Linked DNA regions of Homo sapiens: region 1 is linked to region 2. Evidence: fine-mapped expression QTL. Tissue or cell type: whole blood. Region 2 holds a variant in brackets; the other region holds the start of a gene. All regions are shown on one strand. Distances are between the middles of the regions.

Region 1 (6,957 bases), 57 kb before region 2:
AGTTTAACAGTATACCCCCAGAGCCTAGCACAGCACCTGGCACTTCACAGGCAACTCCATAAACTGTTGAATGAATAAATGCAGAGCTACAAGTCCTAAATTCTGTGTAAAAATATCACAATACGTGATGCGCAGTTCTCAAAGATGAATCCCAGAGAAGAGGAAGGCAGCCTAGGTAACAAAGACCAATTTTGCCTTTTCTTTTCCCTATCACTTCTCTCACACTTGGAGAACATGCACCGCTTAGGGCAGCATCATCCGTGATGAGACAACATCCTAGCTGAACAAAACGCTCGTGGGCTATAAGGTCAGCAGAGGCCATTCAGAGGGGAGGAAAGTGTTCTGTGGCCCTTCGTTTCTCCTGATTTCTCTCTGACACACTCTCCTTTTCACTGTTTCTCCACCCCACTGCAGTTAAGGGCTTTGGCACAGGGATGAAAGAGACAGATCAGACTCAAGGGTGCGGATCTGGCAGCGGGCACAGAAGCATCTCCTAGCCTGCACCAAAGTCCACGGGAAAGATCCAAGGGGACAGTGACTCTGGCCCCAGATAAAGCGCAGCTAGAACAGTACTGAGATTGGAAGAGCAATAATTTCACATGGACATTAACTGTCAGAGATCTTTTTTAAAAATCATGTTTTTAAAGTACAGACTTCAACTCTATTCCCAGAAAACTGGGCCCTGCTGAATCCAGTGCTTACACAAGCTGAGAGCCAAACACAGCTTCTTCCTCTTCCAAACCCACCCACCAGCCCGCAACATCCACCATGGTAAGCATTTCCCAGGCCCAGGTCAGGACCCTTGCTTCAACTTTAGCTTGCAAAAGGCCCCTTTTTAAAGAGGCCTCTTAGCTTTCTCTCTTCCCTTGCTAATAAAACTGTTCCCTACCATCACCATGTTGCAGTAAGAGAGACCTCTCCCTTCTTCCAACCCCTCTCGGTCTATAACACAACCTACAGCAGGTTGGCCCCATCCAATCAGTCTGAATTGCTTCATGCCAAGGAAATTGCTGCTTTTATTAAAAATAAAAGCACACTAGGCAGGCGAAGGGCTGTGAAAAGTATGAGTCTGGCATAATTATGAAGGTCGAGGTTAAGGTTACCAAAAGAGACATGCAAAGATTTCCCGAAAGCCTGGGGGAATCAAGATGTATATCTACGTGAGTATAGACACACAGATGAAACACAGAGGGAATTTATGCAGCAGATCTAAATAACATCCTCTCTGATAGCGAAAAAACAAAATCAGAGCCACTCTCAAGTAATTTTTCTTTTGATTAAAAAAACAAAAAACAAAACCTAAAGCGAGAAGGAAGAGGGGCCTACTAGACTGAGTTCAAAATAACCACATTTGTTTTATGTAATTTCTGTTATCTTTGCTATAACCTGGGGACCTGATTACAGTTGGGTCAGGAAACAAATCTACTAGTGAAATCCACCAAGAGCCTTGGCCCTTGGAAAAACACGTTCACGTTCTCCGAAAATCCTCTCTTCCTTCCAATGCCTGCTCATGGAAGTGGGAAAGTTGGGTAGGAGAAGGAGAAACCCCTCTCTTCTTAAAAGTCCCCCCACCCTTCAGCCTTCACATCAAGATTTTAAGTTTTAGGAGGATGACAAGCCCATCACCCTGCCTTTGGCATAAAGCTTTACACTTTCACACATACGTTTTCTTGTGTGATCCTCAAAATTTGGCTTCTCAATATTAAAAAAATAAAAATAAAAGGCCACTAACGTAAACAATTTCGGCAACCTCCCCACACCCCCATAAGCCCAGTCACTTTCAAATCTCAATTTTAAATCTCTCAAGGACAATGACTCACAGGGCAAGTGAAGGGGGAAGGGAGGGTCAACTGGTCAAAGCCCATTCATACATGCAACAACTAGAAACCACAGTATTGCCGCATCAGCACAAGATTTTAATTTACGGCGCATTGAGCCCCACCGTACCTTCCGCCAACACCTCGTCCACTGTGACCTGCTGTCGCCCGATGCCGAAGACTCTTCCGATGTAGCCACTGCCCAGGCCCGAGGTGCTGCCCCCTCCTCCGCTGGAGCCGGAGCCCAGGCCAGAGCCGCCCTGCTCTCGCCGGGAGTCGAAAAACTTCTTCATCTTGCGAATAGGGAGCAGCAAAGCAAAATACCGATGGTTTCTAGATTTTTTTTTTTTTTTTTTTTTTTTAAGAAAAGAGATCCAAGGATTTCTTCTCAGATTTCACCTCGGAGAGGAGCCACCCGAATCCGGCCGTGGGGGTGGGGGCTGAGGGAGGATGCCTATAGGAATATGCGTGTCAATCGCGCAGCGGGTCCCCTCCTCCTCCAGAAAGCGATTCGTGTAAGTTTAAACCTGTGATGACAGAGGAAGAAAGAGAGGATGAATCAGTAACACGCTTAAAAATTCAACCGCTGAGTCCTAGGGGGAGCAAAAGCCATCATCCTGGGGAAACGCTTCATGTATTTTCCCGGCGAGAAAAACCGTGGGGCTGAAAACGCGACCCCGGCCCCAGAACCCGGGACCCCCGAGCCGGGAGCTCGGAGAAAGGAGGGATCCGAGCTGCTCCGGCAGCGCCGACCCTCCCGGGCACTGCCTCCCGCTCCTCCCGGGTCTCCCCGCCGCCCCTCGAGGCGGCATCCTGGCAGCACCCACTTGAGACGGCTCGGCGGCCGGCGCCCTGCTACCAGCCCCGCGACATTGTCACGGCCGCCGGGCCGGCCTGCGACGCAGAGAAGAGGCGGCGCTGCAGCGAGAGCCGGGGCCGCGCTCGGCTCCCGCCCGCCCGCCAGCTGATCCCGGGAGCGCCGGGCGGAGACTGACCCGCCGCCCCTCCCCCGCGCGCGCTCCCGCCCGGCTCCATCCACCCAACCAGGAAGTGAACCGCCGCCGGAAGTGCCCCTCGGGGCGGCGCGGCGAGGGACCGGGGCCTCTCCTGCAACCGCCGTTCTGTCGCCACGGATGGGAAGGAGTCGACCGCGAGAAGAGGACTGGGGGAAGAGGGTCTCAGTGCAGACAGAGTTCTGGAAAAGACTGTTGATATCACCCGAGCCGCAGGGCAAGCTGGGAAAGGTAGCTCGGCACAGTCCGGCTGCTGGACTACAAATCCCAGCATACTCCTGGAGGAGAGGGCGAGGCGGCAGCCGTGTGGCCTCCACGGCCTCGAAGGAGATTTGTGGGGTGGCGCGTATGTGGGGACTCGGCAATTTAAACACATCCCGTGAAGAAACTGCCAACAACTAAGTTCCCCCCCCCCCCCCCCCGCTGTATGTTCCACCCTTCTGGAGCCATCTTATTTGCGGCCTGGCCTCCTGGCACAAGGGATTCTGGAGGTTGTGGTTTCCGAACGGATCGAGACTGACACCTGAAGGACGCGGCTTAACCGCTTAGCCCCTAGCGGGTCCTGTGGGTTTCCCGACGTCTCCTGGGCTGAAATGGAAGCGAGAAGTGATCGGGAACATTGTGCTGGCAGTTGGATCCGGCTGCACCGAGCGCCAGCCTTGAAATAAGTAAAACCGATGCCCTTCCGCCCCTAACCTCAAAAGCTGCTTTTGCGTCTCGATGTTATTGAGAGCCGGCTCTGCGGTCAGCTCTGAGCTAGGCGCTGTGAGAACGCTCAGTAAGACAGTGTCTCGTCTGGAAATGTACAGGCGAGATTCAAACCGAGAAACTGCCAAAGGTTGTGTGCAGGGCAGATCCTAGGATACCGGAGACCCAGCCCGTTGGCTTGACCTCAAAACTCGGGGGCTTTTCGGCCCATGCTGTCCCTTAATTCCTCCTCCTTTGCTGACGCTGTGGGTGCGCATCAAAGCCTAAACTTCACTAGCTCCCTTGCACACAAGAACACTAACCCTAACCTGACCAGTTATTTATTTTTCACTTCAAGATTCTTCCATTGATACTTACGTTTCCCTGATACCGTCCAAGTGCTGAGGGCGGGGATGGACTGTGTGATTTGCATCTGCCAAATGCAGAAAATTTGGAAGGTCAGTTGGTACACTTTTCCGACCTAGATTTCCTGATGGATGATGCTGAAGAGTGGCAAGTTGCTGCCAAAAACAAACAAAAAAACCTACCATGATTTATTAATATTATTTTTCTAACCCCTGAATATGGGTTATTGTTCATCTCTGCCCGCTTTCCCCACTCCCTAGTGCTTGTCTCAGAATTTTTTTTTCAGCGGGTATTTGAGTAGAGAAGGGTGTCCCAGGGAAAAAAATGGTTCTTGCTTTCTCTAATCTGAATATTGAGCTGAGCTGTGACTGGGTTAACAGTAGCGTTTGTTGTTGCTGCTGCTGCAGCTTGTTTCAAGTAGTGCCATTGTAATTAAACTCCGTGAAGAGATAGCATCTTTTCTTCCGGAGAGAGTCAGTGTTGTCACCTCAGTTCACGAATTCATGTAGCCACCTCCAGGGTGAAATGCAGCCCCTATTCCCTCAAACTAAGCCCACGAAGGCATGTTCTCTGCACTTTCCTTAAAAGGCCAGATTTTTGTCTGAGGAAGTTTGAAGCAGATCTTAAAATAGATGAGAAAGCTCATTTGGAATTAGACTCATTGACCCCCATTTCTCTCAGCACTTATTTGTCTTGACTGACTTTTTTAAACAAGCTGTGCTAGGTCCTAAAATCAATCTGATGCTATCTCAGTTTTTACCTTTCTAGACTTCTCTGGTACCAGACTAGTCCAGGCTTACACAAATCTCAAGTCTTACTTCAGTGATACAAAAACTCCCAATATGCTTAAGGTAGCTAACATGCATTTATTTAACACCCACGTGAATGCTCTGATCAGAAGCTGAGGGAAGAGGTTTAAAAAACAAAAAACATGACTAGATTCCTTGCCCTCCATTCCCTCACAGACTAATAGCAATTATAATGACAAATCCACAGTTTTTCATGCTTTACATATATTAAGTATATAATGCTCACAACCACCCTATGAAGTAAAGTACCATTATTATACTCATTTTATAGGTGGGTAAGTAAAGCAAAGAGATTAGTGACTTGCCCAAAGTCACACAGTAAATAGCAAAGCCAGGATTCAAACCCAAACATTTTAGTTTCAAAGCCCAGTTCTTACCTGGCTATACTAAACTGTCTACTTAGAGAGAGCAAACATTAACTGATTAAAAGACTCGTGAATAGTTAGAAACCCACGCACAAGCAGCATAGGACCAGGAGACAGGAAACCTCTTGCCACTTCATAGCTGGGATCCTAGACCACTTGTGTCACTGGGCTTATTATCTCAGCTATAAAACCAGAGCTCTTACAACTCTTAGTAATTTTTTAGTTCCTGAGTACAAAATAATGAACAGATCAGCCACTATAATCTCAAAACTATCACACTTTCTGTATAATTTGTCCCATGCTGCTTTGCATTCCTGTTCAACTTTTAATGTATATTGCTGTCTCAACCAAACACCTCAAAGCCAGAGAACCATCTTCTACTTATCTCCTTGGGCATCCAGTATAATAGTTTACATAGAGTGTGTTCTTAGCAGTACTTAAAGTAAATAATTTACTTTAAATGTGACACAAAACAGAGCTATCTGATTAAGGTGGAAAGATTGATTTGAAGTATCCTAGATGAATTTTGAACTAGGTGTGGAAGATGCTATGGGTAAATAGTCAAAGGGAGTGGGAAAAGAAAGTGCCATTTACTATTGTTACAATAGTGATCATATGACCGATGGAACAGACTCTTTGAGGCAATAAGATGCCAAATTATAAACAAGACCTAAGGCTGTGTCAGGCAAGGGTTAAGTCACACATCCCTACACTTGAAGAGTAAACCATCTTCTAACTGCCACAAGGTTTTTCTTTTTCTCTGGTAGCTAAATAGACACTGGCCTGGAGATAAGCAATATTGAATCAATTGTAGCTCACTGACCACTAGATGCTGACTAACTGTATCCCCCCAACCCCTGTTCCACAAACCATAACTATTTCTTTGATTGGACAAGAGACTGATTTCAGTAACATCCTAGTAAGAGACTACCAACCACAGACTGGTTCTGGCTGGTTTTCAGAGGCTGTGCACTGAGTGTCTTCATGTCCTTTGCTTCACCTAATTGTAATGCATTTAAATGTTAAATCTCCACCCCAAAGAGAACATAGGACATATGTAACATGCATGTTTGCTCACTATGCATGCATGTGCTGCCCCCCGCTTTGTGAATAATCAAAGCTCCTGTAACTTAAGTGTGTATTCTTAGCCAACTCATTTGGCATAAATTTGTGTTCCACTTTTTCCTCCCTCTAAATACCTGCTTTCAGTCTCTGCCAGAGTCTACACTTCCCAGCCTGTCAGGATCACCAGCCTGCAGGCTGCAACCCTTTATAAAAAGTAAAGCTCCCCTCTCCAAATTTATAAACCTTGGGATTCTTCAGTTAACACTATGTATCTTCCATATGCCAGTTATGGAATTTAAAAAATATATATATATTGTTTTATTGTTTTATTTTTATTTTATTTATTTATTTATTTATTTATTTATTTATTTTTTGAGACAGAGTCTCACTCTGTAGCTCAAGTTGTAGTGCAGTGGCGTGATCTCGTCTCACTGCAACCTCTGCCTCCCAGGCTCCAGCGATTCTTGTGCCTCAGCCTCCCGAGTAGCGGGGACTACAGGTGTGTGCCACCATGCCTGGCTAATTTTTTGTATTTTAGTAGAGACAGGGTTTCACCATGTTGCCCAGGGTGGTCTTGAACTCCTGAGCTCAGGCCATCCACCCACCTTGGCCTCCCAAAATGCTGGGATTACAGGCATGAGCCACCACGCCCAGCCACTTTTTAAAAAAAATAATTATATAAAAAATAGAGATGGGGTCTTGCTTTGTTGCCCAGGCTGACCTCAAACTCCTGGACTCAGGTGATCCTCCCACCTCAGCCTCCCAAAGTGCTGAGATTACAGATGTGAGCCACCGTGCCTGACTGATATTATTTTATTTAATCTTCATGGTTGCC
Region 2 (8,428 bases):
AAAAGGAATCTTTTTTATTTTTTGAGTAGTAAGTCTCAACAGCAGGCTTAAATTATTCAGTAAACCATGCTATAAACAGATGTGCTGTCATCCAGGCTTTGTTGCTCCATTTATACAGCACTGGCAGAGTAGATTTAGCATAATACTTAAGGGTCCTAGGATTTCCAGAATGGTAAATGAGCACCATGTTCAACTTAAAGTCACCAGCTGCATTAGTCCCTAACAAGAGAGTCGCCTGTCCTTTGAAGCTAGGCATTGACTTCTCTCTAGCTACGAAAGTCCTAGATGGCATCTTCTTCTAGTAGAAGGCTGTTTCATCTCCATCGAAAATCTATTGTTCAGTGTAGCCACCTTCATCTATGATCTTAGCTAGATCTTCTGGATAACTTGCTGCAGCTTCTCCATCAGCACTTGCCTCTTCACCTTGCACTTTTATGTTATAGAGATGGCTTCTTGCCTTAAATCTCATGAAGCAACCTCTGCTAGCCTCAGACTTTTGTTCTGCAGCTTCCTTACGTCTCCCAGCCTTCGCAGGATTGAAAAGAGTTTAGTGCCTTGTTCTAGGCTAGGCTTTGGATGAAGGGAATGTTGTTGCTGGTTTGATCTTCTATCCAGCTCACTGAAACTTTCTCCGTATCAATGCTGTTTCGCTTTCTTATCATACTTGTGTTCACTGGAGTAGCACTTTTAATTTCCTTCAAGAATTTTTCCTTTGCATTCACAACTTGGCTATCTGTTTGGCACAAGAAGCCTAGCTTTTGGCCTGTCTCAGCTTTTGACACACCTTGCTTACTAAGCTTAATCATTTCTAGCTTCGGATTCAAAAATGAGAGATGCACATGATTCTTCCTTTCACTTGAACACTGAGAGGCCATCGTAGGGTTGTTAATTGGCCTAATGTCAATATTGTTGTGTCTGAGCAGTGGAGCAGTCAGTATATAACATTTATTAATTAAGCTTGCTATTCTGTATGGGCACAGTTTATGGTGCCCTAAACATTAACAATGGTAACATCAAAGATACCTGGGGCCAGGTGTGGTGGCTCAGGGACTGGGCAAAGTGGTTCATTCCTATAACCTGAGCACTTTGAAAGGCTGAGATGGGAGGATCTCTTAAGCCCAGGAGTTTGAGGCTAGCCTGGGCAACACAGTGAGACCCCATCTCAAAAAAAAAAAAAAAAAAAGAATACTATAGATTGAGTGGTTTAAAAACAACAGAAATTTATTTCTCACAGATCTGGAGGCCGAGAAGTCCAGGATCAAGGCACTGGCAGATTCAGAGTCTGATGTGGCCTGCTTTCTGGTTCATAGTTGTTATCACCTTGCTCTGTCCTCACATGACTGAAGGAGCAAGGAAGCTCTTCTGAGTCTCTCTCATACGAGCACTAATCTCATTCATGAGGGTTCTGCTCATTCATGAATTTCCTCCCAAAGGTTCCGCCTCCTAATACCATCACCTTGAGGATTGGGATTTTAACCTATGAATTTTGCGGGACACAAACATTCAGTCTATAGCAGATGGAAGATGAAGCCCAGCTTTCTAGGAAGCCCCCACCCGCAGAAATTTATGGAGCTAAAAAACTGCCCTTCAACTCCCTCCATTTCCTTGGCTGGCCTCTTCCCCCGACATCTCCCTGTTGTTTCTCCACAGGGAGCTTTTATTCATTGAGAAGGCCAGAACAGAGTGGGGACAGCCATGAGGTGCAGATAGTGGGAGCCTAGGGCGGCAGAGAAGGATGACCAGAGGGCCTGGGGGCAGGAGTGTCACCTATGGAAGGAATGGATCCTGGGGACAAGCTGCGTTGTCGGCTCTGACTAGGTGGGGCGGGGCAGGACTGTGCGATGGGCAAGTGTGAACTGTTACTGTCTCCATTATGCAGATGAAGGAACTGAGACTCGATCATGAGGGGGATTCAATTCTGGTCCTTGTCACTCTGAGGCTTGTGTCCTTTCTGCGCTACCAAGCTTTGTCTCTGCTTCTCAAGATGGTGATACAACTACTAATTCATAAAGCTCTGCAAGAGGGTGGTGGTTTTGAGTTGTAATTTCAATGAAGAGGGAGAAGAAGTAGAAAGAAACTAGGTTTATTTTTATGCTTTGGAATATTGATTGAAAGAATCAAAAGGATATAAGAGGATAAGGCAGGAAAAGTGGAACAAGAGCTAAACAACAAAGCCTGGAAAATAGACTATACTAATATCTTAAAAAGCTGATGGATTGAAGGAAAGATTCGGGTGAGGGGGGACAACTGAAGATATGAATCATGGGTAAAGAGGAGGATGTGATGGTCTTTGCCAAGCACCAGCACTGGCAGTGGGAGTGTGTGGGGTGGGGTCTAGCGCTCATGTTCATGACATAGAGGAGGACCTGGGCCTAGAGCCACTCAGTAAACTGGTGGCAGAGCCAGGGTAAACTTTGGTCTCCTGGCCCCACCTTCCAGGGCTCTTTTCTCTATTTTGTGCACTCAGAGAAGGGAGTTAAAAGATCAAAGATGTGGAAAGCACATGTGAAAAGTTAGAGGACACCCACATAGTAAGAAACTTAGGGCCAGGTGTGGTGGCTCATGTCTGTAATCCCAGCACTTTGGAGACTGAGGTGGGAGGATCACTTGAGCCCAGGAGTTCAAGACCAGCCCTGGCTACATAGTGAGACCTCATTCTATGAGAAAATGAGAAATAAATAAGCCAGGCGTGGTGGTGTGAACCCGTAGTCTCAGCTACTCAGGAGACTGAGGAGGGAGGATTCCTTGAGCCCAGGCTGCAGTGAGCTATGATCATGCCACTGTGTTCCAGCCTAGATGACAGTGAGACCCTGTCCCAAAAAACAAAACAAAACAAAACAAAAAACAAGAAACAAACAACAACAGAAAAAAAACAAATTTAGGCTTACCACTTGAGGTGGACTTGATACTCCTAAAACCTGAGGGGTAATAAAAAGATGCAGGTTGAGGTGCCAGGAACAAAGAATCCAAGACTGCAGCTTTGAGGCTTTCAAGGGAAGAGGGTCCATCATGACCAAGAAAAAATTTTCAGCACATGCTGTGCAGGTACCAGATGCAAGGAGTACTATAAAAAGTCTGAAGATGGCGACCTCCAGGGAATTTAGTCGCCCCAGCAGGAAGGCAGCCATTCCAAAGACGTCCCAATGCAGTGTATAATAGCCACAGGCAGTTAAGTTAGTCAGGAAAGTGAGCACCCAGAGAGAATGGAAGGAGAGAGGGAAAAACTGAAGAAATGTGTAGAAAGACAAAAATAAGACTTAACATTACGATTTTAGACAAAGCAGCATGAGGAAATGTAAATTTTTTTAAAGAAAGTGATTAGATAAAACATCCAAATGGAAACACATCTTGTAAACCGACGAAGCTCACAGACTGAATACAAAACATCACATTTTTATTTTAAACTTAAAAAATTAAAAATGTCGGATGTGGTGAAGCATGCTTATAGTCCCAGCTGCCCAGGAGGCTGAGGCGGGAGGATCTCTTGAGCCCAGGAGTTGGAGGCTACAGTGAGCTATGGCACCACTGCACTCCAGCTTGGGTGACACATCAAGGCTGTCTCTAAATAAATAAATACAAATAATTACATTCAAATAAAGTAAAAAGTCCAAGCACTACAAAAAGGTTTAAAAAGTCTTACTATCACTGCCACCATCCGTACTCTTCTCACTATTAACAATGTATTCATGACTGCAGAAAAGTATCTTACAATTATATAGAAATGACTCATAATTTATCACATACATACACAACACACACTTTTAGAAATGCGTACACATGGGTCGTACAGTACACATTCTGTGGCATGCTATTGCCTTGATTGCATAGTCATATATCTCAGAGCTCAAACCACCTTTTCAAAATCTCTACGGAGTAGCGTGCTATATGGTATTACATAATTATTTAGTGAATTCACCATTGTTGGGCATTTAAGCTGTTTGAAGATTTTGCTGTTACAGCTATAGAAATGAACATACTTGGCATATTTTTTTGTGTGTAACCTAAGGTAAATGTTTGGCAGTGGAATCACTTGGTCAAGGGGTATGTATGTATTTCTTTCTTTCTTTTCTGATTTTGAGACAGAGTCCCACTCTGTCACCCAGGCTGGAGTGCAGTGGTGTGATCTCAGCTCACTACAACCTCCGCCTCCCAGGTTCAAGAAATTCTCCTGCCTCAGCCTCCTGAGTAGCTGGGATTACAGGCACCCGCCACCACATCTGGCTAATTTTTTTGTATTTTTAGTGGAGACGGGGTTTCACCATGTTGGCCAGGCTGGTCTCGAACTCCTGACCTCAAGTGATCTGCCCAACTCAGCCTCCCAAATTGTGGGGATTACAGGAGTGAGCCACTGTGCCTGGCTTAATTTTTTTTTTAACTGTGGCAAAAGACACCTAAAAATTACTATCTTAATCATTTTTTCAGTGTACAGGTGAGTGGTTTTAAGTACATTCATATTGTTGT[G/T]CAACCCTCACCACCAGCCATCTCCAGAACTCTTTTCCTCATCTCGGACTGAAACTCTATACCCATTCAACATGAACTCCCCATTCTCTCCACTGCCCTCCGTGTCCCTCCCGCTAGCAAACACCATTCTATTTTCTATCTGTATGATTTTGACTACTCTGGCTACCTTGTAAAAGCGGAATCATTTGTCTTTTTGTGACTGGCTTATTTCACTTAGCGTAACGTCCTCAAGGTTCATTCATGTTACAGCATGTATCAGAAATTCCTTCCTTTTAAGGCTGAATAGTATTATATTCACTGTATGGAGGTATGTATTTTAAATTTGCAGACAGATATGCTGAAATTGTCCTTCTAAAAGGTGATACCTTCATTCCCACCACAGCAAGTAGGTCCAGCCACATTTCCCCCACCCTCACCAATCCTGCTTACTATCCAGCCTCTTCATGCTGCCAGTTTACTCCATGGAAGAGGAATCTGGTTATTGTTTTCCTTTGCATGCATGAGTAAGGCTGGTCACCGTTTCACAGATTTATTGGCGACTTTTTTTTTTATTGTTGCATCTGTTGATATCTTTACCCATTGTTTTCTCTTGGGCTTTCTTTTTCTTAGTAATTTGTATGCGTTCTTAATAAATTAAGAAATTAGCCCTTTTAATATCTTATGTTGCAAATACCTGTTCCCAGCTTATTTATCTTTTTACTTTGTACACAGATCTTCTTGCTGTTTACTTTTTATTTTATTTATATATATTTTTGAGACAGGGTATCACTCTGTCACCCAGGCTGGAATGCAGTGGCGCGATCTCAGCTCACTACAACCTCCACCTCCTGGGTTCAAGCAATTCTCCTGCCTCAGCCTCCTGAGCAGCTGTGATTACAGGTGTGCGCCACCACCCATGGCTCATTTTTTTGTGTTTTTAGTAGAGATAGGTTTTGCCATGTTGGCCAGGCTGGTGTTGAACTCCTGACCTCAAATGATCCGCCTGCCTCAGCCTCCCAAACTGCTGGGATTACAGGTGTGAGCCACTGCACCTGGCCTATTTTTTACTTTTTATTATGAAAAAATCCAAAATATATAAATCAAATATATTTAAAAAGTAGAGAAAAGAGTACTCTGTGTACCCATTACCAAGTTTAATCTCCACCACACCTCAAATTATTTTGAGAGCCAGGCATGGTGGCTCACACTTGTAATCCCAGCACTTGGGAGGCGGAGGTGGGTGGGTCACTTGAAGCCAGGAGTTGGAGACCAGCCTGGGCAATATAGTGAGACCTCATCTCTAAAAAAAATTAACTGAGTGTGGTGGTGTATACCTGTGGTCTCAGCTACTCGGGAGGCTGAGGAGGGAGAATCACTTGAGCCCAAGAGTTGGAGGTTAAGTGAGCTATGATTGTACCACTGTACTCCAGCCTGGGTGACAGAGTGAGACCCTGTCTCTTAATAAAAAATTATTTTGAAGCAGATCCCAGACATCATCATTTCATCCACAGGTGTTTTCAACGTGTATCTCTAAAGACAAAATTTTTTTAAAACGTAACTATAAAACTATAATCATATGTATGTGGTTTTAAAATATAAAACTGTTCATTTCTAAGCAAACATCAGTCATTTTCTATATGATTTCTGGGTTTTGTGCCATGTTTGCAAAGTCTTCATAACAGTATTATAAATAAATTCGCCCATGTTTTCTTCTAGCATTTATTTTACTCAAAAACCATTCATTAAATTCAAAATTATTGTCCAGCGCATGCAAAGTTCTTAAGTTCTGGAAAGACACAGAGTCACAGGGTAATCAGAGCCAAGAGAGTTAATTTCCCTGCCCCCTTTCTCACCTGTAAAACATCTGCTGCCATGAAACCCCTTTTCAGACCCTGTCCTCCTTTTCCCTCTGTAGACAACCTTCCTGACCTCATGTGTGGGTCAGAACCCCCTATGGACTCTTTCGCCTCTGGCTTCCTTTTTTTTTTTCTTTTTAATAAGAGTGTTATTAAAATATAATTCACATATAAAATGTACCCTTTTAAAGTATGCAATTCAGTGATCTCAGTATATTCACAGTTGTGCAATCTTTGCCATTATCTAATTTTACATTTTTTTCATCACCCCCAAAAGAAACCTTCCACCCATTAAGTGATCACTTCCCATTTTCATGTCCCCACGAGTCCCCGGCAACCACTAATCTACTTTGTCTCTATGGATTCCCAAGACATTTCATAAACATAGAATCACAATATGTGGCCTTTTGTGTCTGACTTCTTTATTGCTAGTACTTTTAGAGTCTCATTTTAACATTTTACATCATACTCTTTCTGGAATTTACTTTGATGAAAGAAGAGGAGTTATACAGCTTGACTCTTTTTTTCTCCCAGATAGTCCTGCCATAGTCTCAACACTGTTTTCTGAATAATTCATCTTTCCTCTCATGGATTAGAAATGTCACCACTATCATCTACTAAATTCTCATTTTAGTTTATTTCTGGATTTCCTATTTTATTCCATTATCTATCTAAATCTCTGCTAGAATCAAACTGGGTTATTTTTTTCACTTATTTACTTATTTTAGTGATGGAGTCTTACTACGTTGCTCAGGCTGGATTCAAGCCATCCTCCTACCTCAGCCTCCCAGGTAGCTAGGACTACAGGTGCGTGCCACCCCCCCGCAGCTTAAATGTTTTAATTCTTGTAACTTCAAAATGTATTTAAATATTTAATCTAACTGCCTCCCCTCCCCTAATATCTTTCTGTTGAGATTTTCTTCTTGGCTATTCTTTCTTGTTTATTTCTACAGATGACCCCAATATTATCTTGTAAAATGTTGAAAAGAAATTTTTAAATATTTTTATTGGGATCACATTGAATTGATAGATTAAATACAGCAAGAAATAATACCCCTTAATAGAGATTTTATATTTTCTTTATATGGTCCTGCCTATTTCTAGTTAAGTTTATTTTCAGATAAATTGATCATAGTGTTCCTATTTAAATGGGATCTTTTCTTTCATTATATTTTCTAACGAGCCATTTTGTACAGTAATTATACAAAAAGTAACTAACTACTTTACTAAAATTCTCTTATAATTTCTGTTAGCTTTTCTGGCAAAACAAACCACCCAATACTTAGCGTCTTAAAATAAGAAACATTATTTCTCAACTCTGTGGGTCAACTGGCAGTTTTTCTGGTCTGGGCCAACTCGGTTTATTTCTGCAGAAAACTGGCACTTTAATTGGCCTCGATAGACGAGAGTGGCTTCACTCAGATGTCTGGTAGTTGGTTCTGTGTCAGCTGGAGCAACAGGGATGAAGAGTCTGTGTGTTTCTCATCATGCCGCGGGCTAACCTAGGCTCATTCACAGAGCAGTGGTCTCAGCCTCTTAAAATGGTAAAAGAAGGCAAGTCTTAACACACAAACAGTTTTCAAGTTTCTGCTTGCATCATGTTTGCTAATGTCCCATTGTTCTAAAGAAAGTCACATGGTTGAGCTCATAGTGTGAAGAAATATACTTCATTTCTGAGAAGAGCTGCAAAAGATTGTAGCTGTTTTTGCAATCTCCCCCAGATTCCTAACATTTCTTTTTGGCCTATTTTTGTCAGGTTTCTAGTTATTATTTGATATCATTTAAATTAATAAATCCTCCTTACCTCAAGAGGTAATTTTAACTCTTAAATTATTTTCTTACTTAATCATACTGGTTAGGATTTCCAAAACATTATTAAAGTATAGTATCTTACTTTAAAAGGTTACTGATGGGCCTGTAATTCCAGGACTTTTGGAGGCTGAGGGAGGAGGATCACTGGAGGCCAGGAATTTGAGACCAGCCTGGGTGACATAGAGAGACTGCCCACTACTTCTACAAAAATAAAAAATAAAAAATTAGCCAAGCGTGGTGGTGTGCAACTGTGGTCCCAGCTACTTGAGAGGCTGAGGTGGGAGGATCACTGAAGCCTGAGAAGTCTGGGCTTCAGTGAG

The links. PIP is the estimated chance that this variant, and not a neighbour inherited with it, causes the effect.
Region 1: it holds the start of AAK1, and the variant in region 2 is fine-mapped to the expression of AAK1 in whole blood (TOPMed, PIP above 0.99).

What each region holds. Positions count from the first base shown.
Region 1 is chr2:69,640,931-69,647,887 of GRCh38, forward strand. It overlaps AAK1 (AP2 associated kinase 1), which reads right to left and starts at 2,809. Exons shown (of 22, transcript NM_014911.5): 1 at 2,645-2,809; 2 at 1,948-2,344. The coding sequence starts at 2,110. It also overlaps a transcript of ANXA4 not described here. RefSeq lists a silencer at 2,558-2,887 and enhancers at 2,968-3,237, 3,993-4,595.
Region 2 is chr2:69,696,815-69,705,242 of GRCh38, forward strand. It overlaps a transcript of ANXA4 not described here. Among named protein-coding and RNA genes, the nearest start is that of ANXA4, 41 kb to the right of the region's middle. The variant G/T (reference allele first, on the strand shown) is at 4,462.